Linked DNA regions of Homo sapiens: regions 1, 2 and 3 are each linked to region 4. The links come from fine-mapping of genetic effects on gene expression. A gene starts in region 4. Each other region holds a variant in brackets. All regions are shown on one strand. Distances are between the middles of the regions. Region 1 has its middle 57 kb from the start of CMKLR1. Region 2 overlaps SSH1 (slingshot protein phosphatase 1). Region 3 overlaps CORO1C (coronin 1C). Region 4 holds the start of SSH1 (slingshot protein phosphatase 1).

Evidence for each region.
Region 1: its variant is fine-mapped to the expression of SSH1 in lymphoblastoid cells (GTEx, PIP above 0.99).
Region 2: its variant is fine-mapped to the expression of SSH1 in whole blood (INTERVAL, PIP above 0.99).
Region 3: its variant is fine-mapped to the expression of SSH1 in whole blood (TOPMed, PIP above 0.99).

Annotation. Positions count from the first base shown.
Region 1 is chr12:108,278,286-108,286,391 of GRCh38, forward strand. It overlaps the pseudogene LOC196469. Among named protein-coding and RNA genes, the nearest start is that of CMKLR1, 57 kb to the right of the region's middle. The variant C/T (reference allele first, on the strand shown) is at 4,312.
Region 2 is chr12:108,826,270-108,834,375 of GRCh38, forward strand. All of the region lies in intron 2 of SSH1 (slingshot protein phosphatase 1), which reads right to left. Among named protein-coding and RNA genes, the nearest start is that of MIR619, 6.7 kb to the right of the region's middle. RefSeq lists enhancers at 1,391-1,962, 5,414-5,523. The variant G/C (reference allele first, on the strand shown) is at 3,209.
Region 3 is chr12:108,686,111-108,694,216 of GRCh38, forward strand. The region is part of intron 2 of CORO1C (coronin 1C); the gene reads right to left. Among named protein-coding and RNA genes, the nearest start is that of CORO1C, 41 kb to the right of the region's middle. RefSeq lists enhancers at 5,293-5,572, 5,363-6,044, 5,523-5,817, 6,045-6,726, 7,440-7,952. The variant T/C (reference allele first, on the strand shown) is at 4,519.
Region 4 is chr12:108,853,567-108,861,672 of GRCh38, forward strand. SSH1 (slingshot protein phosphatase 1) reads right to left here and starts at 4,017. Exons shown (of 15, transcript NM_018984.4): 1 at 3,862-4,017. The coding sequence starts at 3,930. RefSeq lists enhancers at 399-1,598, 2,713-3,214, 3,267-3,316 and a silencer at 3,747-4,486.

The DNA.
Region 1 (8,106 bases), 580 kb before region 4:
TCTTTGTCCTGTGTCCCCTGGGTGGATCCTGATTGGTCTAAACCAATCTTCTTTCCTTATCAGTGATTGGTTTAGCAGTAGCCATGTGACCCAGTTCTGGCCAAAAAGGTGTGAGGGGAGTTCTGCTAGGGGGTTGGGGGCGGGGGCAGATTCCCTTGCAACACTCTGAGATAATCAATGGCTCTTCTACTTGATGCCATGGGCAGCTGCAATATCTGATACTGTGAGTGCCATCTTTTGACCAGGAGATATGTCATTTTGGGGACAAAGCCAATCCTCTGAAGATGACAGAGCAAACAGAAGGAAACACTCTGGATCCTTGATGCCAATATTCAGTTGCTGAGTTCTCAACCTCCAGGCATTCTTAGTATGCAAATGAATGCACTTTTCCTATAGATTCTACCGTTTTGAATGAGGTCTCTGTTACTTGCAGTCCAATGCATTCTAACTGATATAATCTTATTTCTTTCAAACTTTGCTTGGTTTATTTTAAACCGTGATTCCTAAGATAAATGTTAAATAGCATAGGGTATCAAGACTTTTATTCGTGTAATATATATTCCTAGCCTTTAAAGATATACTGATTTTCTGTTTCTGTGCTTCTCAAGTTTACAGGGATTGATGTGTCTGAACCAAAATATGAGAAGATGACTGAGCAGTTGAATGAAATGGAGGATCACATCATGGAGTGGGAAACCGGAGCCGGGCATGGACATGTCCAAGTTTTTGCCATGTCTCACTGCTAATGTATTGTGAGACTAATTTTTCATCAGAGATCCTGGGATGGGCTTGACAATACTGATTATAGGGCTTTTTATCTCTGACATGTTAAGATTGAACTAGCTGTTTCCATACATCTATCTATATCTGTGAGGATTCTGTGGCCAGCAGACCGAAATGAGGTTTATAAAAGGATAGAATGCCCAAGGAATTCAGGAATCAGAAAGTGGGGACATTTCAGATTCTAATAACCTGCAAAACCAATCGTCCCTATAGGGAGAATGGAAGAAGCTAGGGAGCCTCCACCTATTCCCTGTTTCTTTATCCTTTAACCTGCCTCAGTTCCTGCAATTTCACCTTTAGCATGCCATTCACTTGGGTTAAGCAGCATCATCTTTTACTGCTTTTTCAAAGGAAGGAAAAGCTATTGGATTAGGTCACTTTTCTGTTTTGAGAATTCAGGGATGGGAGAGCAGTTATTGACAGGTGCGTCATAAAACCCAGAATCAATCTCAACTCAGCAATCCCTAGCCAAAATGTGAGTCTTCTCTAACTCCTGACAAGTTCAAGGCTTCATAACATGAAGTCTTTCCCTTTGCTCTGTCCTAATTCCTCTGTATCTAACTTATTTAACTCAGGAAGGATATGTAGTAAAAGAGTATAAACCACACAGTTATACAGCTGTGGGTTCAAATCTCAGCTCTGCTGCATGCCAATACATTGCAAGATTCATGAAGGTCAGGATGGCATCTGCAGCTGTATCCCCAGAGCCTAGCACATTGCCTGCCATATAGTAAATCCTCAATACAAATCAATGGGTAGATTCTGTGTGGTTCTGGGAAGCTTACTTGTTCCCACTGAACTTCACTTCTTCGTTTCTTTCTTTTTTTTTTTTTTTACTTTCATGCAAAATCTTTATTTGGAACATGTGTGTTACTGAGCAGGCCAGCCGCCATCCTGAAATAGCAAGGGTATTTACATTGTGCAGAGAAACATAACAGCTCCTTGAAGACATTCATCTGTGCTTGGCCGGTATTTTATCTGGTACTTTGCTCTGCTTCTCTCTTCCCTGTGCTCATTATTCTTCATGCACCCTCACTCCTTTTCACCTTAAGGCATCCTGTACCAGCTGACCTATGGGCAATGACCGAAGCCAACAATCAGCCGCTACCAATTGTGTCTTTCTGGGACCCATTCTACCTGCCTTAGGTATTAATGGTGCCTAAAGAAAGAATAAACAGATGAAAGTTTCTGTGGTTAGCTGGCCATGGTGGTGCACACCTGTAGTCCCAGCTACTTAGGAGGTTGAGGTGGGGACAGCACTTGAGCCCAGGAGCTCGAGGCTGCAGTGAGCCATGATCACACCACTGCACTCCAGCCTGGGCTATAGAGCCAGACCCTGTTTCAAGGAGAAAAAAGTTTCTTTGGCGTTGCCAAGCCTTGTCTTCACCAAATTTTAGAAGTTTTTTTTTTATTTAGTATTTCATTTTATTCTTCTACATATAAAATCAAATGGTCACTGGATTAGTAAATTTGAAAACTTTCTGTGTGTATTGACCATAATCTTAACTACTGTATCCTTGAAACATGGTATAAATTTTTGATTAAAAGTAATTCACTCTGATTTTTTTAAAAATCTACTTGTCAGCCAGGCACAGTGGCTCACACTTGTAATCCCAGCACTTTGGGAGGCCAAGGTGGGTGGATCATGAGGTCAAGTGTTCGAGACCGGCCTGGCCAACATAGTGAAACCCCATCTCTACTAAAAATACAAAAAAAAATTAGCCAGGCTTGGTGGCGGGCGCCTGTAATCCCAGCTACTCAGGAGGCTGAGGCAGGAGAGTCACTTGAACCTGGGAGGCGGAGGTTGCAGTGAGCCAAGATTGTGCCACTGCACTCCAGCCCAGACAATAGTGCGAGACTCTGTCTCAAAAAAAAAAAAAAAAAAAAAACTACTTGTCAGGAGCTCATTGCTTTGCTAGTGTCCACTGCTCAGCCAGAGATAGTGGTGAATGGCCTGTTTGCATTTCTTGAAAGATTTCCATTCTGCTGCTCAACACAGGTTTTCTGCCTTCTTTAGAGTCTGAGGTCCATCCTATGGTTTTCCTGATTCTGGAGAATGGCCTGCAGCCTCCCACTTAGGGCTTGACTGTGCTCATCTAGTCCATCCCAGGGCTGGAAGGGACATCCCTGGTGGTCCACAAAGGTGACCCAGCAGTGCCTAAACTTCCGGAGGTCATGATGGAGATTTGGGTCCCAGCCCTCTGCAGCATGCACAGCCCCTCATATCCTGGGAGATAATTATAGATGCATGCAGCGAAGATGTGCAGGCTCACACATCTGTTCTCCCAATGAAATGTAGCCACTTGCTGGGCACAGCTGAAGCAGGGACTCCAGGAGATGAACCAGGTGACCCTGTAGCACTGAGCCCGGTCCAGCTTCCAAAAGGAAATCAGGTACAGGAAGCACTGCTCTGCATGGAAATCTTAATAGCAACTGAGATTATTCAAAGCCTGGCTGGGTAGGATGCCCTTGTTGCTGGTCCAGAGGGACCCAGGCATCATTGTTTTGGCACTCCACCTTGCAGCACAGGTAGGTCTGGTGCTGCCCAGAGACTGAAGGATCATTGGTAAAATTGTAAGTGAATGTGTCTGAGAATCTCCCCCAGCATGCTGTGCAGTAATGCATAATTTGTATTCAGTTGCTTCCAAGGATCAAATAGCATTCTTTGGTTGTACACAAATTTGTCCCAACAGTGTTGAAATTCATCATAGTTCATGATCTTCATGCTGGCATGTGGACTGTTTTTTCTGACACCATCTGTGAAGCTCCTCTTGGTAATCTGCTTCCCAGAAGTAGTAGAGGTGGGCAACGAAGATGGTCAGGGTGACCTTGCCATCCTTGGCCAGGAACTCTGCCACGTTCCCTGCATACTCTGAGCAGGGACTCCAGGAGATGTACCAGATGACCAGGTAGTCCTGGTCACGATGCAGCCTCGAGTTGCAGAACCAATCTACGAATCTCATCTCTGGGTGGTGTTCAGGCTTGGAATAGACCTGGCCTCCAAAGATCCTTGCGTCCAAAGGGGGCTTTGAGGGGTCCTTCTTTGTTTTCATTTTGTAGCACAGCCAGGTGGTGTTCCAACCTGAGAGGATGGGTCTGTTTTCAAAGTTGTAGTAGAATGTGCCTGGATACATCCACTCCATCAGGTTTCTGATCTGAGGCTTCATGTGCAGCCTTCTTGGCAGGCTTGCCCTGACCATGATCTTTGTCTGAAATTTGTCCCCTGTCCCTACCTCTAAGATGTTTCTGCTTAGCTTCTCTGACAGTGAGGGCTCGAATTTCAGCTGACCCAGCATTTCTTCGTTTCTGAAGACAAGGTGGTTTTACCATTTAAGCTTCTGATAAGGATGAAATAGGTTGACCAATGTGGAGTTCCCTCTGGCTGCCTGTCACCATCCCTAAAATCCCATCACAAGTCAATCCTTCCCAGTAAGGCACTGGTGCCCAGGCAGTGGGCTAGGTATTGTAAACTGCCTGCCATCCACCAGGCTATCATCTGCCAGCAGGCAAGGCTGAGAGCCTCCATTC[C/T]ACCTCCCTGTATGGAATTTGCTCCACAACCGCAGTCCCAACATCTGGAGGCAAACTGGAGACTTGTTCACTCATCTTGATGTTGCTCTGAAGGTGGAAAACATCTGCATAGTGGAAACCAGGGAAAAGATACCCTGGATCTGCCTCTTTCTGTGTTAGGCTTCTGGGCCCCACGGGACCCCCAGGTATTTGGCTGTGTGTTGGTGTCTTAGCGTCATCCAGTGTCCAGCACAGACTTTAATGCCCAGTTGACTATGATTTCTAAGTGAAGGGATAAACACAGGAAGTCTGTGGTCACAGTGGTACCAGCCAAACCCTTAACAGAAACCTGGTCCGGAAAAGAACTACAAAACAATATGAGGAGGAGGGAGGCATCTGGTTCCTTTATTTTCTGGCTGTAATAAATCAGACAACAGGGAAAAGAAAAGGCCAAGGGAGGTGGAAGCACTTGATAGAAACCTCCTTTGTCTGTGATTACTCTTTTTTTTTTTTTTCTGAGACAGGGTCTCACTCTGCTGCCCAGGCTGGAGTGCACTAGTGTGATCTTGGCTCACTACGACCTACGCCTCCCAAGTTCAAGCGACTCTTGTGTCTCAGCCTCCCGAGTAGCTGGGATTACAGGCGTGTGCCACCATGCTCAGCTAAATTTTTTTGTATTTTTAATAGAGACGGAGTTTCTCCATGTTGACAAGGCTGCCCTCAAACTCCTGGCCTCAAGCGATCTGCCCGTCTCAGCCTCCCGAAGTATGGGGATTGCAGGCCTGAGCCACCGCGCCCAGCCTGTGATTACTCTTAATGGCACAAGTAAAGAACTGTGTCTCCTCCACTTCTAAACTAAGTGACCTGCGACCTCAGTTTCCATGTTGGTGAAATGAGGAAAAATCCCACCCTCCCCAGGTTTCATTAAGATAGGAAAAAAATGTGAAAATACTTTGGAAACGGTGTATTATAAAAGTGATTGTCATGAAACTCGATGATGATGATGGCAAAAATAATGTCAGCTTATGATAATGTCTTCATTCATTCAACCAGAAGTTATGAGCAGCTTTTCTGGGCTAAGCACTGCTAGGGATACAATAAGGTGGCCAAAGTCCCTGCCATCTTGCTGGATCCAAGTAGGGGCCAGACTTAAGGCCACTAAATACACACATAATAATATGATTTCAGATGGCAGTAACTAGTATAAAGAAAACACTAATACAAAATAGGGATCTGATAGGCAGCGAGTAGGGATGGAGGCTACCTTAGCATGGCCTGTCTGAGGAGATGGCATTTGGACTGAGACCAGAAGGAGGCGGACGAATCAGTCATGCAAAGGGAAGAGGCAAGTGGGCCCAGAAACAGCAGGAATAGCAAGTGCAAGGGCCTGAGGTGGGACCAATCTTGGCTGTATTGTTGCTGTTGATCTGTTTGTTTCATTTTGCTTGAGAGGCAGAAAGGATCACCTAGCTGGAAAGCAGCATGAGATGAACTTAGAGAAGGAGGCAGTAGCCGATCACATAGGGGTTTTGATGCCATAGTAAGGGCTCTGGATTACTGTATTCTGTGATAAAAGCTCACTCTGGCTGCTTCCTACAGTGTGGGTTGAGGGAGCAAAGACAGAAGTGGGGAGGCCAGCAAGAAAGCCGATGCATATTCAGATGAAAGAGCCTGGCACCTGCTAAACGCTAAAGTGCAGCAATCTCACTGAATCCTCACAGCTGCAAACCTTTATCATGCCCTTTGTCATACAGAGGAGAAAACTGAGGCTTCGGAGGCATTGAATAGCTTGCCCAAGGTCACAGAGCCTAACTCTAACCCTGCCCTTAGCTGACGTAAATAGCAGAGCTTGGATTCGAGCCCTCGCAGTCTGATTCCTGAGCCTACCTGACCCGGTGTCATAAACATCAAAGTCCCTTTGAGTCAGGTGGTGAGGCTGGGGAGGCCCCCAGGAGGGCTTAGTCCTTCCTGAGACTCTACCTCTTTGGATGGATGCTGCAGGAGCCACTGCCCTCTAAAATGCTCTCTTGAATCAAGGACAAACCGTCAGACCTGGTCCTGTCCTGCCACTACCTGTCCTGGGTACCAGTGGAGGTGGGAACTCATTTCTGCAGACAACATGAATTATTTTATTTTTACAAAGACTTTTGCTGAGGCATAACTTACTATAGTGAAGTGCGTTCGTCTTCAATGTACAGATAATTGGGTTTTTACAGATGAACCCCCATTCCCCACCCCTTACCCCGTGTAACCACTATCTAGGTCAAGATGGGGAGCATCCCTCACTCATATTCAGGACAATCTTTAAGAGTAACATTTATGCCCCCAAACAAAGCATGTCTGCCCTACAGCAGTTTTTGCCAAGATCTCCCGCCTCCCCTTCAGCCAGGATTCTGCTGGAAACTCCTCAGGGGAGCCCAGACCCTGGGCAGAAATTCTTTACAGCAGATTAGCACCAAAGTGCTTGTCAATAAACTAAGAAGTGAAGCAGGGTGGCTTGGTGAATGCTCAGGTCTCTGGGGTGATGGTGTTTTAAGAGTGACTCAGGTGAGCATTTTCACACACTTCTCATCTCCCAGCAGTCAGTGAGGCAGGTGGTCTCCATCTTATTTGCAAAGAGGTCTCAGTTTCACCATCTGTGAAATGGGGGAACAGGAAGGGACAAACTTGAGGAAGTAGTCCTTTCCAAACGCAAAAACCCTAAGATTCTCAGGGTTGTGAGAAAGTGACAAGCCCATTCAAATGCAATTTCCTCCTCTCAAGGAAAAAGCAATTCCTCAGACTCCCCGACTCCCACATCTTCAAAATTTGACATGGGAAAGAGAATATGTTCTTGTCCTCTTCTCTCCAGGGAAGGGTCTCTACAGAGGACATTTTGCATTTGCACATTTCTGGGGAAAACAGCAGGAGCTTTCAAGATAAACATACTGGGGTTTGAATCCCAGCTCTGTCACTTACCAGCTGTGTGGCATCGGGCAAAGTCACTTCACCTTTCTGAACCTCAATCTCTTCACTTGTGTATGGAGATAGCAATACCCCTACTGTGAAATCCTTGTTGCAAGGACTCAATGAGACAATGAAACTGAAGAGCTTGCCCAAAACTTAGACAAGGCTGAATTAGTATTTGCTATTATTACTGCTGTTGCTGTTTCTGCATCTTTGAGCACAAGGTAAGTGTTTTATAGACCTGTGCTTCTTCCTCCCTCACCAACTCTCATCTTGCCCCCACCTGTCTATTGACTAGATACCTAGAGCAGTAGCTGCCTGACTTGTCTGGGGGTATCCCCATATCCCAGGGGGAGAGACTTCTGGAAGATTCCCCAGGACAGAACTCAGGTGACCCCCAAGGTCAAACCCCAAGTCCAAGTGCTTGGCATCTCATCTGTATAAAGTCCCCACAGCACAACCTGCAATTGCAGCATTAACATGCCTCTGTTCCTCTTAGGTTAATATATGTATTATTTATAGGGCTTTATTATGTGTTCAGAGGGCTCCCCTGAGAAATATAATTGTGCATTGGGTGGTACATTTGAATAATATTTACAATTAATTTCAGACAATAAAGCAATGCACCGAGGCCTCTGTGTAGCAGAAATGGGCCCTGGGTTGGTTTCCCACTAACCACTCCCCTGAGAAAGCTTGGGTAGCTTTTAAATATCTTTCCAATAGTCCATTTCTCTCCAGCATCGCTTCTGTTTCCCCAGTCCAGATTCCACCATGGCTCATCTGAGGCTGCAGTAGCCTCCGGGCTTCCCACTCTGCCCCTCTCCAACCTGTCCTCCCCAGAGCAGCTAGGGGCATTGTTCCAGCATGCAG
Region 2 (8,106 bases), 27 kb before region 4:
TGTTCCTCCTCCATGTTCCTACACTGATAAGAATCAGGGACTCCTGCTCTACGCATGAAGTCAGGATGGCATTGATTGGGGCCCTGGAACACTCTGCCTCTGTTCCCCCACGACAATCAAGTAACAGGCATTTACTGTAAAAAGCAAGACTGGAAGCTGCAGGGAAGCCCAAGTAGCAGCGCATTATCCCGAAGCTGTGAGATCACCCTGCGTCCTGCAAATACAGTCAGGAGATACAGCCAGAGGAAACCGCACGACATGACTCTCCGGGTGGGGGGTGGGGTGGGAGGCCGCAGAGCATGGTCAGTCACAGGATTTATGAAAACAAGATGCAGAAAGTCTCTGTGACCCGGCTTCCTGGCTTCTCTTCTGAGCTCACTCTGGGCCCAGAGCCTCATGCGCCCTCTGCGTGGCTGACCTGAATACTGTATCTGACGACTGCAGCTTCTGATGCCCAGAGGCACAGGCTCCCGATTCATCAGACCCTCAAAGTGTCCCACTGGGGAAGTCCATGAAGAAATCCACATTGGTGATGGCACGCTCACTTTACCAGGTGTCTGGGGCCAGGAAGCCCAAACCCACAAGCCATCCATCCCAGCCACCCAGAAGTCACTCTTCTCACAAAAGATCTGAGTGTCCTAAAAGGAGTGACTAAAGTTACAAAAGGTCAGACGCAGACAGACAAAACGGAAATGTCTTCCTCCACCGCTGTAAGAAAAATCTTGATGAGGGATAAAAAAAAAAAAAGCCGCTGCCCTCTCTACCCGCCAACTGGAATGTTTTTATCTCCACCACACAGATCTGTTCTCGGACACTGATTACTGCCATTCGGGAAGCTTCATAAGATTAAAGTTTCTCCAAAGCATTGAAGACAGACAAAAAACCTCAATCAATGCTCCTCAAAAAACCCCAGGCCCCCAAAATATAAACAGCCAGTGTCATCCAGAAACCAAGCCATGGCAGGAAACCAGTAATCAGGGTGGTCATACGTACTAATTTGAGCTGGAAACCTCTGGACAGCAGAAGCAGTGGGTTGGCTGAAGGAAGATGCAGAAGTCGGTAAAATAAAAGAGGTTCGTGGCTGCAGTGCTCACATCTCTAACGCTCCCTACAACTGCCCTCCGAGCTCTGGCCATCTGCTCCCTATGGAGATCAGGAAAAGCCAGGAGGCTGCCGAGTGCTTCCACGAGGGCTGGGGAGCCAACTCCTCCTCAGAGTCCTACCCGAAAAGCAAATGGCTCTTGTGGAACTCTTGTCTTCCTCTGATATTTTGGCTGAAAAAGGCCCTTGTCCCAGCACATCCTGATGAAAGAGGGCCATTCAGCAAAACAGCTGAGGTTCCTCTAATCACTGCACTCCTACGGGCTTTTCTGTAGGCCGGAGAAACAAGCACCGGGGTGTGCATTCGACATTGTGAGGGCAAACAACTGGCCCCAAGGAACCAACCCCAAGCAACAAGACCCCCTTCCGATTCAAATCAACATTCTGAAGGATGACTCTTTCTTTCAAATCAGCATCCATTTACCCAACGGTGACGGTGACGTGGGCAGCTGCCGCAGTTAGTTATTCTGCGTACTCAAAGCACGGTTACATCCTGAAAATTCTTCAGTCATGCTAACAGCTATCTGAGGGGACACGCCAGGTAGAGGGGACCACATGCACACCTATGAGGAGCTCTGGGATACGCACGGTGCCCAAGGCAGGTCAGGCTGCAAAGGTCCTAAAGGTTGGAGGTGTGATCCCAAACCCTCCAGGCACAAGCCAGCCAAGAGCTGTGTTTTTAGCGTTTCTTTCAGTGAGAGAAATAAGTTCAGGATGTGAATAACCATGACGCAGGAGAGAATGGAATAAGTACCCTAAGAAAGGGGCTCGGCTAGGGTTTACAAGAGGGAGGAGGGAGCATTTAACTGGTGACTTCTGGAACAATTCCTGAAGGAAGCAGCACTGAGTAGGGGCTTCTCTTCCCTCGGCTCACAAGTGACCAAGCGATCCTCCCTACGGATTAAGTGAAACACACATTACCATGATTCTGGTTTTGCAGGTGAGGAAACCCCAGCTTGCCTAGGAGCACATATCTCTACAAGATGGGGCTGGACTCACATCTATCTGCCCCACGCCCACCTGCTTAACCCCTGTTAAGCAGCTGTTCTACTCATCCAGAATGAAAATCAGAGCCATTATGCTGCGGTCACATCCGCTCATGCCTGCCCAGGTGCCTAATGGCAAAGCCACTAAGGCACTGAGAAGTCAGAATGTGGATCACATCTTCCGTCCTTCTTCCCAGTGTGTGAATGCATCATGCGTGGGAAAGAGAGAGAAGGAACCATTCAAGCAAACAGAACTCCAGGAAGACGAGACTGTGCCGGGGTTCTTCCATCTGCCCAAGTAGAAATCAGAAGGGCAGGGGACCCACAGCCTTATCCTACCCACCACTGCCGTCATAGTTGGGGGACAGGACACATCCTTTGGCCCTTCTGCACTGCATAGAGGCTAAGGAGTTCTGTAAACCACACAGCCACGCTGACCAAGAAGTCGCTTTCAAGGTAAGTTTCTCATCAACAGGACTATTATTTACTGAGGATCTCCCATGTGGCCAAGGCTGTAGGAGGTACTTAGCTACGCCACGTCATTGAACTCTGGCAGTTCTGCAGGGTAAGGTATTTTCTCCATATGACAAACGAAGGAAGCCCGTCAACAATTCCAAAATAGAATCACCAGGGATAGCATGGACAACGCCCATGGTGACTGCCGCGCTTTAAGGTTTAAGAAAAGTAAAAACTGGGGGTGATGACTCATTCCTGTAATCCCAGCACTTTGGGAGGCTGAGATGGGTGGATCATTTGAGGTCAGGAGTTCGAGACTAGCATGGTCAACATGGCAAAACCCTGTCTCTACTAAAAATACAAAAATTAGCCAGGTGTGGTGGTGCATGCCTGTAATCCCAGCTACTCAGGAGGCTGAGGCAGAGAATCACTTGAACCCAGGAGGCGGAGGTTGCAGTGAGCCAAGATCGCACCACTGTACTCCAGCCTGGGCGACAAAGTGAGACACTGTCTTGGGCAGGGGCGGTGGGGAACAAAAGTAAAAACAATGGTCTGGGAATTCATATTTCTGGGTTCCAATTTACATTCTACCATATATACTCTGATTAACCCCTAGAATTAACCCCTAGAATTCCTTACAGGGTTCTGTTCATTCATCCAAACAG[G/C]CAAACATTTGCAGAGCATGGAGCACAGGGTAAGCCAAGCCAGCCCAAGCTCTGATAAGGGCAAAGACAGCCATCCTCTTTAAGGAATGGGTATATGTGCTGGTGATCTGGGTGTCTGCCCTGCTGCATAGAAACAGCATTTCTTGAAGAACAAAAATAGTAGGTATAGAAACATCACAGTATGGAATATCCAAACACCCCTGAATTCCAACTCTGGTCATACATTGAAACAACCTATCAAACTCCTAAAACACATTCATGCCCAGGTCCAGCCTCAGCAGAGTCTAATTCGGAAGGTCTGTGATGAGTCCTGGGCATCTACTTTTTTAAAAAGTTCCAGGGAGCTGGGCATGGTAGCTCATGCCTGTAATCACAGCACTTTGGGAGGTCAAAGTGGGAGAATCAGTTGACCCCTGGAGTTCAAGATTAACCTGGGCAACGTAACAAGATCCCATCTCTACAAAAAAATAAAAATAAAATTAGCTAGGCTTGGTGGTGTGTGCCTGTAGTCCCAGCTGCTCAGGAGGCTGAGGTGGGAGAATCACTTGAGCCTGGTGAGGTCAAGGCTACAGTGAGCTGTGACCACACCACTGCACTCCAACCTGGGAGACAGATCTTGTCTCCAGAAAGTTCCAGGGGGTGCTTCTGATGCACAGCCAAGTTTTAAAAACCTCAGAATCAAATAACATCATGGCCAGGCATGGTGGCTCACGCCTGTAATCCTGGCACTTTGGGAGGCCAAGGTGGGTGGATCACTTGAGGTCAGGAGTTCAAGACCAGCCTGGAAAACATGGTGAAACCCAGTCTTTACTAAAAATACAAAAATTAGCTGAGCGTGGTGACGCACACTTGTAGTCCCAGCTTCTTGGGAAGCTGAGGCACGAGAATCACTTGTACCCTGGAGGTCGAGGCTGCACTGAGTGGAGATTGTGATCCTGGAGTCCCCACTGCACTCCAGCCTGGATGAGAGTGAGACTGTCTCAAAAACAAACACACAAACAAACAACATCAGAAGACACAGAGAAAACAGTCTTCTCCATGGGCTTCATAAAGATACCTCTCACATAGGTACACGTCGATGTTTTCTGCTGGTAAAAGGTAACACCAACAAAAAGGCATGGTGCTCTCAGAAGGTGGGTGATGTGATTAGGTGCAATAAAGGGAGGTCATGCTAGGGTCAAAAACAAAATAATACTCTCTTTGGAAGCAGTAAAACAGATGCTAGTCTTCTACTACACACTTTCAGAGACCTGAATGTTCTTCTGGCCCTCTAAGGGAGACGCTGCATCATGACAATACGAAATGATGACAGTGAAAGCAAAAACAGATCAGACCTGTGCTGTGTGAAACAGACATGGGGTCTCGCTATGTTGCCCAGGCTGGTCTCCAACTCCTGAGCTCAAGCGATTGTTCCGCCTTGGCCTCCCAAAGTGCTGGGGTGACAGCTGTGAGCCACCGAGACCAACCTCAGATCAGACCTTTGACAAACTCTGCTGTGGACAAAGCATTCTGGTGAATGTCAACTCATCTGATCTTCACAAAACCGTGTGGAAGACCAGACAGGCATTATTACACTAATTTATGCCTAAGGAAACAGGGAGTTAAATAGTACAAATTTAGGATTTCTGATGCTGTATCTCGAAAAAAAAGTAGAGAATATGAGCCTGAAGAAGAGGCCCTGTAAAGGGTCCCAGATTGATGGGACAGGCTGAGACAAACGGAATCACTTTTCCCTGGATAGAACTAACCCTCAATGGTACCCCACTCTGCATGGTGATTACTGAGGGGACTGTCAATTGTCCAGCGAACTTGATGGTAATTCTAGGAGAAAAAGGAACTAATGTAATGCTGTCAGCATAGAAAGATGGGTGCCAACGAGCATTCCAAAAAGGAGGCTCTGTTAATTCGGTTTCGATCAACAAGTATTTGCTGAGTGTCTATTGTGTCCGGTCAGTGCTAAGGCCTGAGAATTTAGAAGTGAAACAGACCCGGTTTCCACCCATGCCACAGACCACTCCACACCTGGTCTGGAGTGACACTGGAGGGCCAGGCAGGCACAGGACAGTAACTTCGATATAAGGCAGCAAGTTCCACGGTGGAAGGAGGTGGAAGGTGCAGATGCACGTACACACAGGGGTTCAGGGAGGCCTCCCTGGAAGAAATGAAGCCTGCGAGGCCCTGAAGGATCAGTAAACAGAGAGGCATAAGGGGCAGGAGAGTAAGATGATTATGCTACATGTACCTTATTGTGAACCCAGGAGGATTTGGCCTCTGTCATAAAAGGCCCCCCTGTGGGTTCATAAACCTCAATTTACAAATTGTGCTTTATATATCAGTTCCTTATAAGTTTGGTTAGCGTAAATTGGTTTCTTAGAACTTGATCATCCCTGAGTGAACTCACAAATTCAAGTTTCAGAATGTGCAAACCTAAGAAACAAACCTCATGCTTGTGGTTGAGACATCGCACTGTCAACATCACAAATTCTCAGCACCTGAATGCCTGGTATACTATCAACATATATTGTTTTAAATATGTAAATAATAGCTTTCTAGTTATAGAGAGTTTGTCCCTACATTTTTCCACTTAATTTTTACAATCCCATTCCCCTGATGAAACAACCCCAGCCTGGGCAACATGGCAAAATCCTGCCTCTACAAAAAATACAAAAATTAGCTGGGTGTGGTGGCGTGCACCTGCAGTCCCGGGTATTTGGGAGGCTGAAGTGGGAGAATCACTTGAGCCCGGGAGGCAGAGGTTGCAGTGAGCCAAGATTGTACCGCTGCACTCCAGCCTGGGAGACAGAGGGAGACTCTGTCCCACCCACCCCCGCCTCCCAAAAGAAAAGAAAAGAAAGAAAAGAAAATGAAACCACCAAGACTGGGAGAAGATAAATGACTTGTCTGTGGTCATCTGGCTAATAAGAGGTAGAATGGGGCTGAAAAAGTTCGGTGCTCTTCCTGAAGAATCCATAGGTCAGAAAGCAGCACCATCTGACCTGCAGCAATAGCAGCAACGTGGAAAGCTAATCAACTGACCTCAAAACCACTCTCAGTGAGGCTCTGGATGGATTCAGAACCCCAGGCCTAGCAAAGTGAAGTTGATAAAGATGTAAAGGAGATCGAAAATTCACCATTTGGAGAGAGATTAGCTAAAGACTGCAGGTCGGATGGAAAATTCTTTCCATGGTTCTCCCACAGGTTCTTCCCTCATTTGGAACTCGTGTTTAAAAGTCACAAAGACCCTGAGTTGGGCCAAGGTCTCGTTCTTCTTCACTGTGGGCCTTGCAGTGCAACATGGCAGGGCCTCGTTCCAAATGTCACTCTTCAGAGCCTAAGAAAACAAGTAACTTTAGGGACACACCTGTCAACCGGAGCTCCCAAATTGTACCCCCCTAAACACATAATGCTGAGCATAGAAAAATTCCAGCTCTGCAGAGCGTTATACTTAGGGAAAGGGGTCACAGACAAGGAATGCTGGCAGGGCTCATTACAAATATCTTTGCTGCTGGAACATGTATTGTTTGGCTAGAAGGCGTAGGCTTCTCTCAGAGAGAAGGAATGTCCAAAAGTATTTCAGACAGTAAGAGACATTCTCTGAGCCAGCTACACAGCTCTCCTTCAAACCAACGGGTAGCGGCAAGCAGCTGAACTGACCAGCGAGCTCGCAAAAGCAAGCTTTTTTTTTTTTTTCTCCCTAAATAAGACAGCAAGTGATGTGTCTTGGCTTGGTTTAGCAAATTTTAAGATAGTTCCCTGATGACCCCAAGAGCCCTCAGGCCCCATGGAAGCTGGAGCTAATGCATCTTCCTCCAAGCATCATCTGCTCTACCAGGATCTAAGCCCCTTCACGAGGGCAGAAGGTATAAAGGCTGCACTGTGCGGGAAATGCTATGGCAGCAAAGACAGCCAAACACGCCAGAAATAACAGGCACATGAAGGAAATGTTTCTGAGACAGCTCAAAAATTCCGAGAAGAGATTATCCCGACTGTCCCAGGTTCTCAGCCCTGTCTATGGTATGCAGCCCCATACCACAGTCATTTGTCACCGAGTCCTAACTTTGTCAGAGGCCCCTCCTTTCAGGTCTCTCAGGCACCACCCAGTTCTGGCCCTCCTCACCCCCGTGAGCCAGGCGACATCCAAGCAGCCCCACGGTGCACCCGGCTCTGTGCTGCATTCTCTGAATGTCCCTGAAGGCCAGGGCTGTTGTATTCTCTACCCACTCTCTGTCTAGTATGGGAGCCACTGGCCAGATGTGTTGACTGAACACTTAAGATGCAGTAAGTGTGACCAAGAAACTGGGTTTGTCATTTTATTTCATTTTAGTTAATTTAAATTTAAGTTTAATTAGCTACATGAGGCTATCAGCTGTGGTATAGGACAGCAGAGCTCCGGAAGCTTTTGGCCTGGTGAGAAGAATCAGGACAAGCGCCTCCCTGGCCTCTCGCCCACTCTGCACAGCCGCTAACCATTGCTCTCATGACATTCTTTCCCAGCCCCAGAACTTTTAGCCATGTGACATCATCTATTGATTAGAGTCCAAACTTCTTGTGCTAACTCTCTATGGGTTGCCACAATTAGCCATTGTATGTCGTTAACCTAAATTTCATTCATCTGCTATGTCCTGACCTTAGGGGCTTAGAATATAGTTAGAAAACAGTATTTCAGAATAAAAAACCATTCTTGTATTACCTCTCGCACTATTCCCCCTGTTCTCCATGCTTCGCATTCTCTGTTCTATCCCCAGCTATAGCACTGTCCCCATAAAGCCTACTGTGGTTCTCGGCTCATGGTGTCCTTCCTCCCATCTGCCTCCCGACGTCATGCCTGTCTTCCAGTGTTTATGCCTTCTCCAGGAAGCTTTCTCTTGTGGCCCTCGCTGTGAGCTATAGCTCCTCCC
Region 3 (8,106 bases), 170 kb before region 4:
GAGGAAACATCATTCTGAAAGACATTTTGCACTAGGATCTAATAAGAACACAATTCTCATTCGTCTGCACGACACATACTGATTTATCATGTAGTGAACAAACCAAAGAATCCATGTATAATTAGCTAGATTGTGAGGGGCCACTCAGAAAGACATCCACCACATGTCATGGTGACAACACAGTTTACCTGAACCTCTAAGCAGCAAATTTAAATGAATGCAGAGGCTGAAAGGAAGATGTACAAGAATTAAAGCCAGCTTTTAGATATCTTTTTAAACTAAAAAATGAATTATTTAAGAAACTCCCACCAATCTTCTAAAGCTTAGAGATAGAAAAACTTCACTTTACTAACAGATCAGTCCACTATTTCACTAGGGATAAATCACCTCTGTTGCTTAATCTAGAATATTACTACTTTTCTGGCATGAAATTGAAGTAGTTTAGCTGAAAATGTAATAGCCATTAGACTCCTTGCTTTAAATAAATTTTGATTCATTGATTACTTACTAGTCCCAATCACATGCCATAGGATAGCTTTTGTTATACCTTTCTAGCTAAAACTCCAAATGATTGGGATTACTAGCATGTCAACCCAACAGGTGGCAAAAATGGCCAGCACCAAGTTTCCCAAAGGCTCTGCTCCAGAGCCAGTTCATAAACTCGTGGGACATTGGTGAAATAGGTCAGGACACTGGCCTACAGACATTATTATCTGAAAGATCCAGTACAGCCTGCCCAGAGCCAAGCAACATGAGCCGAAAGGAAAATTCAGCTTCCAAAGCATGTATACAGCTGGCACAAGGGAGAGGTGTAATGGCACAATTTCCACGTGGCTGGCCAGAGCTAAGGGTGATGTCTTATGAGCATGTTCCAGCCAGCAACCTTCACCGTGGCAGAAACCGTCCCAGATACAAGCACTATCATTTGCTTTGGGGAAAACACTTAAAAATCTTGAAGTAGCTACAACACAGCCGAGTTCCTGGAGACTGATACTTCAACTAAACCCACAGAGTTAGGCAACATTTCCTCCAATGGGCATTTTGCGGGGAGAAAGTGAATGAAAATCAAAATGTAAGCATCAGTAAAAATATAACTTTATCAAATTGCTATAAAAGGAAAGTTCAATAACTTAAATGACTTAGCAAAAAACATTCCTCTTTAGGCACACTAAATTCAACATAAATCTTAAGAAATCCGGCGAAACCCTGTCCCTACAAATATAAAAATTAGTCAGGTGTAGTGGTGCGCACCTGTAGTCCCAGCTACTTGGGAGGCTGAGGTGGGAGGATCACCTGAGCCCAGGAGGTCAAGGCTGCAGTGAACTATGATCGCGCCACTGCACTCCAGCCTGGGTGACAGAGTAAGACCCTGTTTCAAAAAAATAATAATAAGGCCAGGTGCAGTGGCTCACGCCTGTAATCTCAGCACTTTGGGAGGCTGAGGCGGGCGGATCACTTGAGGTCAGGAGTTCGAGACCAGCCTGGCCAACATGATGAAACTCCATCTTTACGAAAATTACAAAAATTAGCTGCGCTTGATGGTGTGTGCCTATAGTCCCAGCTACTCAGGAGGCTGAGGCACGAGAATCGCTTGAACCTGGGAGGCAGAGGTTTCAGTGAGCCAAGATCGCGCCAGTGTACTCCAGCCTGGGTGACAGCGAGACTCTGTCTCAATAATAATAATAACAATTTAATTAAAATTAAAAAAAGAAAAAAGAAGAAATGATATTGCTTAGCTGTAAGGGCACTTCCTATCAATCTTACTGGAAAATCACAACAGCTTCCACTTATTAACAATGTATCCCCTCTGACCCTTTTTTTTTTTTTGAGACGGAGTCTCACTCTGTCACCCAGGCTGGAGTGCAGTGGTGCAATCTCAGCTCACTGCATGCAACCTCCACCTCCCAGGTACAGGCGATTCTCCCGCCTCAGCCTCCTGAGTAGCTGGGATTACAGGCACACGCCACCACGTCCAGCTAATTTTTGTATTTTTTTTCACTATGTTGACCAGGCTGGTCTCAAACTCCTGACCTCAGGTGATCTGCCCACCTCAGCCTCCCAAAGTGCTGAGATTACAGGTGTGAGCCACCGTGCCCAGCCCAGTATATCTTATTTATCGATCTCACATCTCCTTCTAAAAAGGAATCCACATTTAAGAAGTAGACTCATCCTATATATTGAGGGCAGTACTGAGTACAATAAAAAAAACTGTTAATGTACACAAACATGTACAGAAAATTTCTGACAGACACGTCTCAATAAAGTTCTGTGCTGGGGTGTGTTTTTAAAGCAGCTAGTGGTGTATTACACATGTACCGCAGCCATGTTCACCTTCCCAAACTCTCGAAATTCAACATTGGGAATTTTGCTTCCAATATGTCCTACATATTACAAAAGATCATTCAGAATGACTGTTTCTTCATGTAAGAATGATTCCTCACATAATTATTTCTGACCCACATATTGGTTTGTGGTTGAAGACACTACCAATTGGTGTTAAAATGGATCAATCTAAGCTGGGCACGGTGGCTCACACCTGTAATCCCAGCACTTTGAGAGGCCGAGGCAGGTGGATCATCTGAGGTCAGGAGTTCAAGACCAGCCTGGCCAACACGGTGAAACTTCATCTCTACTAAAAATACAGGCCGGGCACGGTGGCTCACACTTGTAATCCCAGCACTTTGGGAAACCAAGGCAGGCAGATAGGTCAGGAGTTCGAGACCAGCCTGGCCAAAATGGTGAAATCTCGTCTCTACTAAAAATACAAAAATTAGCCCGTTGTGGTGGCACATGCCTGTAATCCCGGCTACTCGGGAGGGCTGAGGCAGGAGAATTGCTTGAGCCTGGGAGACGGAGGTTGCAGTGAGCTGAGAGCGTACCACTACACTCCAGCCTGGGCGACAGAATGAGACTCTGTCTCAGAAAAAAAAAAAAAAAAAATTAGCCGGGCATGGTGTTGGGCACCTGTAATCCCAGCTACTTGGGAGGCTGAGGTGGGAGAATCACTTGAACCCGGAAGGCGGAGGTTGCAGTGAGCTGAGATCGCACCACTGCACTCCAGCCTGGGCAACAGAGCGAGACTCCATCTCTGAAAAAACAAAAAAAGATGGATCAATCTGATAATCACTGGTTCCTGCAAGAAAGGAAATGTAACATTATGTTAAAGTCGCACAACGCTTTACCCAGCAGGCCTACTCTTTCTCATAACTAATGTATGTTTTCACAAAGTAATAAATTCCCATGGTGATAAAAAGTGACACATTCATTCGAGTGATAAGTCAAATCAAATATTCCCCTTTAAGAAGCTCAAGGTATCCCACACACAATTTCTTTCAAGTTTGCATTCTGGAGTGTATCATATAAACCCACACCTTCCTAGGGTGCTGGATTCAGACTGCTTTCTACACGGTTTCCCTTATCTAATCCAACTCAGGCAGCTGTCTCACTTCCAGTACTTTTCCATCTCCTGATCTGCAGTCCTCTATGCCTATTATCCAGACTGGTTACACCACCCGAAGATGTAAGGGCCTAAGAGCCCCCACCCCATCCTGGGGAAGGCAAACAAAGATACTTTACATGACCTGACTCAAAGAACAGTTAAAAGATTTCCACATTGTTCAAACCCCTACCTAATATTCATCTAAGTTTTCATTTTAGGAAAAAATGAGTATCAAAATCACTTTATGTGCCCAAATTTCAATCATAACTTATTTTTGGCTTTGGGTGATACATACTGAGAATTCTTCAACTCAGCAAGGAGAATGTTAAGTCACACATGTGCTCAGAAGTAGAGGAAAAGTTTTCAGCCCAAGCATAAGGGCTCCATTCACACTGTGCAGAGTTCAAAGGAGTCAAAAGCGTATCTATTGAAGTGGGTTTTCCATTTTTTTCAACTTCCTTTTTCTTATGACAGTATTATTTATGTGGATACATGTTTTGTTTGAATTTCTTAAGCCCCTGCTGCTCCACGGGGAGGAGCTAGAGTGATTGTGGTCATGGGACAAGGGGACAGCGGCATGGAAAACAGAGACTCAGCAGCAGACCAAAAAGACGGGTGCACACAATATATGACTTGTGCACAGGCTGGTCCCTGAGAGTGACAGCTCATGGCCCAGGAATAAAACATTCTGAGGAGGCTTTACTTTAAGGGAACCAGAAATACCATCCTTGAGGTAAAAGGAGGTGCTCTGGAATAAACCCTACAGATTGAGTTACCCTGTAAGGTAAGGTAAGCTAGAAACAAAAGCTGCTGGGGAGAGGGAGTATGGGCCTACAGAGACTTCACCTGCCTGTGAGTAAAAAACAGCAGTCTTTTTGGACAGAAGTGAAAATGCCAAGCAAATAATTTTTGCATCACAGATCCTCTCTAAAAACTGGGTTTAATACTGAATAGACCATATTTTAAAATCAATTAAGAACTTGAGGGAAGTTATTGTAAAACTACAAACATTTTATTATCAGAAAGCAAAAACACGGAAAAGTTAACATTTCCTTACTCAACCTTGCCCAAATATGCGA[T/C]AGCAACCAGAGTAGCTGTATTTCCTAACTTCCTGACTTAAAGAATTTATAAAGTGAAAACCTAATGCTTTCTGCTCATTATTGCAGACAAGTAATTCCATATGATGCTTCTGGGCTGAGAACAAATAAAAACTTGGAACCCAAGATGAGGTAGAATCTAGTTAAAATAAAATTGAGCTAGAAAGCAAAAGCTGAAAAGCAGAAGAACTACAGATGTAAATGCAATATGGAAAATTAAAGCATTCAATATCAAATCAGAAAATAGAGAAACTGGTTGTCTAAGCCCTCGTAGTAAGCAAATGACATTGGAGATTGATCTACTGAAACCCTCTGTGAACGCTGAAGAGCTCCAGGGCTAACCCTTCCCATTGCAGCTCTGCATTGGTTTAATCCACAGGTCTCAGAATGAAAATCCACCCTCCTTGGATGGTGGAGATGATAAATAGAAAAATATTACAACTTTTTTTGGGGGGTGGGAGGGGCTAATGCCTTGGGCTCCATGGCTGAGTCAGTTCCACACAAGCAAGAGGACTGCAGTATAGACTCAATTCAGTCAGCCAGAAATGAAACCCAAGTCACCGTTCCTCCAAGAAAGCAGACATGTGTCCCATCACATGCCCTCTCAGCTCATTCTTCCCCAGACTCAACTCAGGTCCCACCCCTAATGGGCGAAGATATTCAACTTGGCAGGAGCAGATGATTTGCTACATGTGGTTATAAGGTGGCTTCTGGGCAAAACCGTGACTCCAGAAATGTGTTCATGACACCTTGAGTTTATTTCAGAGTAATGTGTGTTCAGATACCTTTCTTTACCGGAGATACAGCAGCTTTCCCAGACTGGGGTTACCATGTTTACACACTGAGGGCTTCTGCTGGCAGCAATTGTCAGCCTGCTTAGCACAGACTGGCACGCTCCACAAACCCAGTAAAGAGTTAAACGTTCTTTGCACTTGACTCAGTGGCTTCTCTTCACCACACACTCCCAGATCCCACCATTCTCTGAGCCACCCGTGCAGCCAATCAAAGCAAAGGAAGGAAATTATCCTGGCCGGCTGACAGCCACAGCGCTCTGATGGCCATATATGGTAAAAACCACTGTCAGAGCCCTGTCAGGCCTGCGGGCCGGCTGCTGTGGACATATCAGTGAACTGCAGCAGCAGGAGAAGCTGGCCAAGGAAACGCACAAAGGCTGCCTGCTCATCTCCAGGGGAGGGGGTGGGGTGGAAACCATCATCTGCCAGGGCACACATTCAGTGAGTCACAGCCACTCACTGTCATCAAAAATAGCCCCGGGGTACATTGGGAAGTTCCTTCTGCCAGGACTTTGTGCTCCATTGTTAACTGGGGGTGAGCAGGGTGCCCACCCCACCCCTCCCAGCAAAACTGTGGATAACACAGTCACTAGGAGAAAATGAAAAGGCCCTTCTGTGGCACTTCATGTGGTAATGAGGCCAGGCCGTGCTCGTGTGGCTGGCAGCTCGTGACATAATTTGGAAGTCATTGTTCTGCACCTGGTGCCCTCCCCCTGCATCCTCCACCCCTCCCAGTCCTGTCCCCCAGCTTTTCACGGCCCATACACTTGGCAGTTGAAGGTGCTCCAGGCATCAGACAATCTATTTCAGGAGGCAGTGAATGGGCATCCCACGACATGTCAGGACACTGGCTGGCTCTGAACAAAATCCTCTGCCCCTAACACCAAAGCTACCAAGTGCCAAATGTCCACATCTGTACAAAGGGCTACCGGCACTGCCACTGTTGTCTAAAACAGAGTACCACAATGTGTAGAAATGGAAATTGCCTGTCAGCAATGCACAGTAAGGCAGACATGCAGCCAATGCAAATCCAGCAGGTGCTGGCAAAGACTGTGGATCACACAGAAAAGCACTGTCAGGAGACTGCCATTCCCTCTCAAGTAGCCCATGAAAGAAGGCACTTATCAGCACGGCGCCTGGCACTTAAAGGAAGCCCTCAACAAATGTGAACTGCTGCGATTTCATCACTGTCACTGTGTCCTCACAAGGCATGGTATAGACCAAGTACTTTCCAAACCTAAGACAATTCTCTGAGCTGACAGAATGAAAGCCCTGTCAAGTTACTGTTTTTGTTATTAAACTCTCTAATCCCAGAGAAAGAATGCAAAGGATTCAGTGTCCATTAGACCACAGCTTTTTTTTTTTTTTTTTTTTTGAGACAGAGTCTTGCTCTGTCGCCCAGGCTGGAGTGCAATGGTGCTATCTCAGCTCACTGCAACCTCTGCCTCCTGTGTTCAAGCCATTCTCCTGTCTCAGCCTCCCGATTAGCTGCGATAACAGGCGTGTGCCACCATGCCCAGCTAATTTTTGTATTTTTAGTAGAGACAGGGTTTCACCATGTTGGCCAGGCTGGTCTCAAACTGCTGACCTCAGGTGATCCACCTGCCTCGGCCTCCCAAAGCGCTGGAATTACAAGCTTGAGCCACCGCGCCCGGCTAAACCACAGATTCTATATCCTCCCCCCTAAAGAAAAATTCGTTCACACTCAGTAGAAAAAAAATTAATAAAAATATACATGTACAAATCAAATAAGGACTCAGCAACCTAAGTTCTAATTCACAAACAACCTCACGGTCTTGGACAACCACTCAATTTGGTTTCAATTTCTACAACTGTAGAACAGAGGAATGATCCCACCCTACCAAGTGAAAAAACAGAGACACTGTTCATGAAGGGGACTATCCACGTACGATCTGCTGACATTCTGCAGTCTCATTTCCATCAACGTGACAGAAGTCACTGCTTTTTCCTAAAGATGATACAAACGAAAGACGCCATGTTGATCTAGTTAAAACAATGATTCTAAAATATAAAACAGTGCTTATTCTAGTTCTTTTCCCCATAACAATCAAGGAAAATACCAATTTTGCCAAATTCACACTGAAAGTGAAAGAAAGGGTCAAGAAATGTAGGATTTTCTACCAAAAAGCTATCCTTCAGCTTCTTTTGACTCATAATGTTAGTTCACACTATGCATAAATGATTTGTTTATCTTCCAATCAAACATTCTATTTCTGCAATACTACAAAAATCCACCTAAACTAGACATCCTGGAGTCTGAAGGAGGAATGTGCCTACCACCTACTTCTTTGCCCTCCTAGGGACAGAGCCCCTCTACTAACTTAACAGTTTAAAAGTTGGGTTGGCTCCTCTTCTGTTTCATCTTTAGCTCCTACGCAGAGGAAAAAAAAAAACCTGAATTCAAACCGAACCTTCTCTGTGATGTCTTCCTTACCTTCTAAGCCTAGGGTGAAACTATCTCTCACACCCCAGTGCTAAAGCACTTCATGCACAAAGCACCCCCCTGGAGAGATCAAGCACAGTTGTTGAAGCTTCTTAAAAGCAAGAACCTAGCCGGGTGTGGTGGCTCACGCCTGTAATCCCACTTTGGGAGGGCAAGGCAAGAGGATCAGGAGTTCGAGACCAGCCTGGCCAACACAGTGAAACTCTGTCTCTACTAAAAATATAAAAATTAGCCGGGCATGATGGTACACACCCGTAGTCCCAGCTACTCACGAGGCTGAGGCAGGAGAAGTGCTTGAACCTGGGAGGTGGA
Region 4 (8,106 bases):
ATAATGTAGGGAGGGGCCTGGGCAGCAAGGGACACCCACCAGGAGGTGGCAACTTCAACCAAGAATGAGTACACCAGCCCGGCGCAGTGGCTCACACCTGGAATCCCAGCACTGCAGGAGGCCGAGGTGGGCGGATCACCTGAGGTCAGGAGTTCGAGACCAGCCTAGCCAACAAGGTGACACGCTGTCTCTACTAAAAATACAAAAATTAGCCAGGCACGGTGACATGTACCTGTAATCCCAGCTACCTGGGAGGCTGAGGCAGGAGAATCACTTGAACCCAGGAGGCGGAGGTTGCAGTGAGCCGAGATTGCACCACTGCACTCCAGCCTGGTGAAAGAGCAATACTTCGTTTCAAAAAAAAAAAAAAAGCGTACACCAGAGGGCCTGGGAGTCCCTACATCATATTAAGATGAAGTACATACAAGATTCTGCAGAGGCACCTACCCCACACTGAAGGAGAAGTGGAAAGAGCAGGGAAGGCTTCAATGACCACAAAACAAGTCACAAGAGCAACAAATTGACAAAGAGTATGTTGGGGTCTAACCCAGTGGTTCTCAATGCGGAGCAAGTTCTCTCAACAGGAGACATTGGAAGATGTCTGGAGGCATTTTTCTGGAGGTCACTACTGGCACCTAGTGGGTAGAGGACAGGATCCCACAACACACAGGATGGTCCCCCCACAAGAGAGAATGTTCTGGTCCCAAGTATCAACAGTGGGTTGAGAAACTCTGGTCCAATCCAAAAAAGTGCCTGGAGATCTGCCCATGAAAATTAGTCACTTTGAATGTTTCTCAGAAATAACAATGTTATGATCCATTCCTGAAAATTATTGATTTATCTATTCTTGTGCTCTGCCTGTTCACACAAAGGAACTGAGATAAGATTCACAGGAAAATGACATAAGTGACATAATCAAAGACTGGGAAAAAAAGAAAATTAAAAGAGAAAAGAGAGCCTTAGGACTGAGGGCTGTGATCCCCCGTTTCCCACGCCGGCAGCAGGCCTGGCTGTGTCAGGAAAGCACTGCCCTAAGTGTCTGACTCATTATGAAGTTGCAATTTGAAGAGTGATGACGTGACTTGGGGGTACGGACTTCACAATCATTTAACTCTCGGTCACTCTCTGAGGTTCTCAGATGAAAGGCCATCTCAGGTCAGTTATTCCAGGGAAACTACATCTGCCAAGGAACACATGAAAGAGGTAATTCAGTCCTTTTAGATGAGCCAGGGCCCACACACAGGAAGCAACTCAAGCGAGGGCGGACCAGGGCAGAACCGGCCTGGCCTAGGTCTCCTGACCCCATACACACTTGCTGTCTCCATCCCACCTTGCTTCTCACCTCAACACATCTGAACGAGGGCCTTGCCTTCGGGAAACATCCCAGCGCATTCAAAGCCAAGCAATGAATGCTGCAGCTTTGCTATGATCAAATAAAAGCTGCCTGAGTTTTACTTTATGTTTATCAGGGTCATTGGCACTTGGTAAAAATAATGCTTTATATAATAATTGAAAATGTATCTAGTAGACACAACACAAATGTCCAACAAAATGTGGTACATCCATACAATGGAGTATTATACAGCCATGAAAAGGAATGAAGTACTGCCACATGCTACAATATGCATGAACTTTGAAAACGTGATGCTGAGTCAAAGAAGCCAGACACAAAAGGCCACACAGGGTGTGATTCCATTTATATAAAATGTCCAGAATAAGCAAATCCATAGATACAGAAAGTAGATTAGTGGTTGCCTAAGGTTAGGGAGAATGGGGCAGGGGGAGGCTGCAGGTGAGGGCTAACGGGTACAGGGTTCCTATTTTGGGGAGGATGAAAATGTTCTGGAATTAGATGGTGGTGGTTGCACAATCTCATGTATATACTAAAAACCACTGAATTGTACACTTTAAAATGGCAAATTTATGGTATGTAACTAAAAAATAATAAGACCTTAAAATGCGTAAGACAAGAACAGATTAGGTTGCAAGTAACTCTAGGAACATGGGGTTTTGAATCAGAAATCTGGGCTGACAGGTTCAGCCTGAAGCCAACCTCTCCCCTTACCTCACATAAACTTTTGTGATGAGAACCTGAGATTAAGTGCATAAATTGCCAGACAGCAGTGACCGGAACAGAAAACAGCCCCTCCTCGCTGTGGGAAGGAAAGGCGCTCCTGCAACCTAACTTCTCAGTAGCAGGCTATTGATCGCCAGTGTTCTTTTGCCTCTAATCAGCGTGTAGAGGGGGATTACTAGAACCTTCTGTGTATAGATAACTCATGAATGGCCTCTCCTCTCCAAGGAGGGGGCTGTGAAGGTTCAACTTCCCAGCCACTCTGAAAATGTCCCTGCCAATCCCAGCAAAACAAGGCTGAAGAACTACCCTACCAGGAGACAGGGCTGTCAAGCCAAATGCAAACATTATTCTCTTGTCTCTCTCAGACACACAAACCTCCCCCGTGTTATCAGTCAACTTCCCCCACTCCCTCCCACAAAGAAAGGGGCTGAAGAGCCCAGATGCTGGCTGCGGAACTTCCTGGGCCTGGGACCGCAGGGCCGCTCCTCCAGTCTTCTCTAAACACAGCTAAGGGTCTGCAGGCGGACACTCAGCCTTGTTATAGGTAAGAGTTTAGACCAGAGGCCTTGACGGGTTCTTCAAGAGATGGTGGGCAAGATTGCGCGACCAGAGGGTCATCCCTGCAGCTACAGAGGGCTGACCTGCTCAGAGGCCCAAGGCCCCAGCCTAGGACAAGCCAGGCCAACCCTGCAGGCTAAGAGGGCAACAGTGCCCTCAATCAACCCCAGAGGAAAAAGTGGCCAGGCAAACGGACCTGGGCCACACACAGACCCACAAAAACGCGCACAGTGCCAGGACACGCAACCCAGGAATGCACCTATGCAATCACCCAGAATGGGTCACAGCCACACAGAAAGATAGATGCACATAAACACACAGGCCTGAGTGATGTTACAGAAAGGAAAAGCCAGACTAAGGCTGCACGCACAGACGTGAAACACAGCCACACAGAGCCCACAGCACGCTCGGTCACCGTCACACAGTGACACGGGCACGCCTACAGACAGAACTCCAGAGGCGGCAGGCGGGGAAACAATCTCACACGTTTGTAGGGGCACTCCCAGATGCCTGTCTCACGCTGGCACAGTCCCCGGACGGCAGGTCAGCAACAGTCACATCTCACATCGCACAGCCAGGCATACAGGCAAAGGGCCTAGAACTACCCCGGCCACAGGTCTCAGAACCAGCGGCTCACGCAGTCACCCAATCAAGGGTCCCAGTTGCACATCCAGTCACCCCTGGACCCTGGTCACACTGCAGAGTCACTCACAAATGGGAGTCCCGACAGACGCACAGTCCTCCCCAGACAGAGGTCAACCCAAGATGGGGGTCACACCTGAAATCACAGTCCCCACACAATCACGAGGTCACATCTGCACACACAGTCTCTGCACAGTCACCCTTAGGGGTCACAACGCACACAGTCTCCGCCTAACAGGGGTCACCCCAAGATGGGGGTAACCCCCTGATGTGGGTCACAGCGCACACACAGTATCCTGCAGACACTCCCAGAGGGGTCGCACTGCATACACAGTCCCTGCAAAGTCGCCCCCCGATAGGGGTCACACCGCACACAAAGTCCCCGCACAGCTCCCCAAGACAGGGTCACATCGCACACAGTCCTCGCACGGTCACCCCGGTCCGGCTGCCCGGCTCTGTTCCTACGGCGGGGCCCCGAGGAGCCCGCGCAGCCGCCCCCCTGCCCCGCACGCGCGGCCCCAGCTCCGGCGGCCTCGGCGCGGCGTCCGGCGGCCCAGGCCGGGCGCGGCGAGCCCGGGGCTCACCTCGCTGTTGCTGGCCGAGGAGGAGGCGGCGCTGGGCGTGGGCGAGCGCTGCAGGGTCACCAGGGCCATGGCTGCGGCGCGGTGCGAGGGCGCCACAGACGTCTCGAGCTAGAGCCGCCACCGCCACCGCCGCCCGGGCCGGGCCCGGGGCCTCCTGGAGCCGCGCGCGGGCGGCCGGGCCGAGCCGGGCCGGGCCCGCCCCTCCCCCTCGGCGTCGCCACCGCCCCCGCCCCCAGCTCCCGCCTCCCGCGCCGGCGCGCGCAGGCCTCAGTGCGCGGAGTGGGCGGGGAAGCGGGCAGGGCGGGACGAGGAGGCGCGCGTGCGCGGGGGCCCTGAGGGCTGCCCGAGGCCTCGGCTGGTCGATCACGTCCCTCGCGCGCCCGACACACGCGCCCCCGCCCGCGCGCCCCGCTATCAGGCCTGGGACTCGGGGGCGCGCGCGCCGCCCGGAGCCCGTACGCCCCAGGGGCCCTGCCCGCTGCTCTGCCTGGGGAAACTGAGGCCCGGCGACCGTGCAGACAGGACTGTACAGCGACCAGGAAATAAAAGACGTCCTGGGGCCGGGCGCGGTGGCTCACGCCTGTAATCCCAGCACTTTGGGAGGCTGAGGCGGGCGGATTACGAGGTCAAGAGATCGAGACCATCCTGGCCAACATGGTGAAACCCCGTCTCTACTAAAAAGACAAAAATTAGCTGGGCGCAGTGGTGCGCGCCTGTAGTCCCAGCTACTCGGGAGGCTGAGGCAAGAGAATCGCTTGAATCTGGGAGGCGGAGGTTGCAATGAGCTGAGATCGCGCCACTGCACTCCAGCCTGGGCGACAGAGCGAGACTCGGTCTCAAAAAAACAAAAAACAAAAAACAAAAACAGTAAGCAAAATAGATTCGCCTGATTTTGCAGAGGTTAATCAAGTTATTAGGCACGTTTTTAAAAAAGTATTTTGCTAATCTTTTTCAATGAATTCTTTCTGGGTGTTCTGAAACCCAGCCAACTCCTTGGAGGTCAGGGAAGGCTTCCCAGAAGAGCTTTATTCTGAGGCTTGGGCTTGAGCATAAGCAGGATTAACAGGTGAAAGAACAGAGAGACAGCTCTCCAAGCAGGGGGGATCAGCGTGCCCTGAAGCAGGAAGAAGTTTGTCAACCGGAGGCCAGCACTCAGGGAAGGGAAGAGGGGAGGAATGGCTGGAGTCTCCATCCTCTCTGGAAAGATCGCTCCGGCTGCTGCGTGGATGAGGGACCACGGGGCAGAGGGCTGAGGGAGACCAGGGAGGAGGCTGCTGCTGTTGTCCCGGGGAGAGGTGACCAGTTATGGGGATGGAGAGGGGAACATGGAATAAGATACCAAGAAGGCAATTCTGGCTTGACTTAGTAGTAGGAAACTTTTCTTTTAGCCAAAATCTCATCTCCCGGCTCCCACCCCCAACCTCTGCATGTTGCACAAGCACTCGCAAACGCAGTGGTCCCAGCCTGCCCCGCAGCTTAGCAAATTTGTCTTACTGCCCAACAGGAAACCCACGCAGCCTCCTGGATTCTTCCCCGTCCCTCCCTCTGTCCTGGGGCTGTGACCTCCTCCATGTTATTCACAGGGTCTCAGCACGATTCATCTCAAAGGTGATTCTAGTGGGGGGCACTGTAGCTTCTACGGAGCGTTTCTAAGAGGGGATTTGTGGGAATGTTTGTGGTTGTCTTGCTGATGGAGGGGGAGAGCTCCTGGCATTTAGAGTGCAAGAGCCTTGGATGCTAAATGTCTTCCAATGCACTGGACAGTCTCCCCAACAAGAATTGCTCCATTCCCACAAAATGTTTCCTGGGTGAAAAACCCATTTATAGTAATTTGAAGCCAGAACCTAACTCCATTTCATGCATCAACACTAGTCTTCCTTCCTTCCTTCCTTCCTTCCTTCCTTCCTTCCTGCCTTCCTTCCTTCCTTCCTCTCTTTCTCTCACTTTTTTTCTGAAACAGGGTCTCACTCCCGTCACCCAGGCTGAAGTGCAATGTCACAATCATAGCTCACTGCAGCCTCCATCTCCCAGGCTCAAATCATCCTCCTGCTTCAGTCTCCTGAGTACAACGGGTACACACCACCACACCCAGCTCCTTTAAAAAAAAAGTTTAACTATGTTGCCCAGGCAATCCTCCTGCTTCCGCCTTCCAAAGTGCTGGGATTACAGACAGAAGCCACCATGGCTAGCCTGGTATTTTTTACTGAATTTTCAGAAAGGTGACTATGTTGAAACCCTGTCTCTCCTAAAAATACAAAAAATTAGCCAGGCATGGTGGCGGGCACCTATAATCTCAGCTACTCAGGAGGCTGAGGCAGGAGAATCACTTGAACCCGGGAGGCAGAGGTTGCAGCAATCTGAGATCGTGCCACTGCACTCCAGCCTGTGTGACACAGCAAGACAGAGAGAAAGAGAGAAGGGAAGGGAGGGGAGGGGAGGGGAGAGGAGGGGAGAGGAGGGGAGAGGAGGGGAGGGGAGAGGAGGGGAGGGGAGAGGAGGGGAGGGGAGGGGAGGGGAGAGGAGGGGAGAGGAGGGGAGGGGAGAGGAGGGGAGGGGAGAGGAGGGGAGGGGAGGGGAGGGGAGGGGAGAGGAGGGGAGGGGAGGGAAAGGAAGGGAAAATACACTTTGTTTTGCTTGAGAGTTTTGTCAAGAGTTGTTCATCCATCCTTAGGGAAAAGGAGGTAATGGATGGCAACGCCTCTGCTAATATTAGAGCATCCCACACAAGGTGCCCACAACTGTAGCTGCACTCTAGGTAGACAGACAGTCATAGGTACTTAAATGTCAAATATAAGGGAAAATTGTGGACAAAATTCAGTTGAGTAGAGAATATTTTATTTCTCAAATCCAAGCACATTGATTATTGGCAGGCCCATGCTTCTGAGATGCCCCTGTGTCCTCTAAGGGAGTAGTGGCTGAGCATTTCCACATTGTAATGCATGTTGTTTCATTATGATTTATTTTTCTTTTATGTCTCTCTTACATTAGTTTTCAAATTTGAGAGTTTGAGAATCCCCTGGAGAAAATACAGATTGCTAGACCCCACCTCCCAGAGTTTCGAATTCACAAGGTTTGCTGTAGGGCTGGAAAATTTGCACGTCTAACAAATTCACAGGCAATGCTGATGCTTCTGTCTGGGGACGACAGTCTGAGAACTACTGCCTATACAAATGCAATGGCCTCTTCACCAAGAAATTCCTACCTAGATCTGATCCTGGTACCCGTCCGTGGCCCCCAATCCTAATCCCCCTGCTCTGGCCGGCCTGCTTTTCCACTCACCCCAACTTTTTTGGAGGCAGTCTCCACCCCTTCTCACTTCCTCTTAGAGCTGAGAGCCCTTTTCTTCCCCACAACTAACTCTTGCTAGAAATCACCTCCAAAAAGCTTTCCCTGCCCCTTAAGCAGTGTCATTTCCAGGATCTCGTAGCCCTCACCCTACCCTTAAACACACAGCAAGTGTCAGTCTGCCTTATCATAATGGGTCCATCTCTCTGTCTTGTCCCATTACCGTAGAGCCAGGAACGGTCCCTAAGAAAAGCCTCAGGAATCAGGCTGGGACCAGCGTGAGGGTGCAAAATGTAAGAGGGTGCCCCCAAAAACTCAATGATTAAGATAAATAGTATTTTAATGCAATATTTTAGAAAATCAAAATTAATGCCAAATCCATGATGAATAAAATATTTTTAAAATTTGCTTTTTTTTTTTTTTTTTAATTGAGACAGAGTCTTGCTCTGTTGCCCAGGCTGGAGTGCAGTGTGGCACAATCTCTGCCTCTTGGGTTCAAGCAGTTCTCCTGCCTCAGCCTCCCGAGTAGCTGGGATTACAGACCCCCACCACCATGACCGGCTAATTTTTGTATTTTTAGTAGAGATGGGGTTTCACCATGTTGGCCAGGCTGGTCTCAAATTCCTGAAATCAGTGATCTGCCTGCCTCGGCCTCCCAAAATGCTGGGATTACAGGTGTGAGCCACTGCACCTGGTCAAAATATTTACAAAAATTTTTTAAGAGCCAAGGTCTCATTCTGTCACCCAGGACTGGGTGTAGTGGTGCAATCCTAGCTCACTTCAGCCTTGAACTCTGGGCTCAAGCCATCCTCCTGCCTCTGCCTCCGGAGTACCTGAGACTACAGGTGTACACCACCACGCCTGGCTGACTTTATTTTTGCCAGAAACTGGGTGTTGCTATGTTGCCCAGGCTGGTTTCAAACTCCTGGAGGCACTCAATCCCCCGACCTTGGCCTCCCA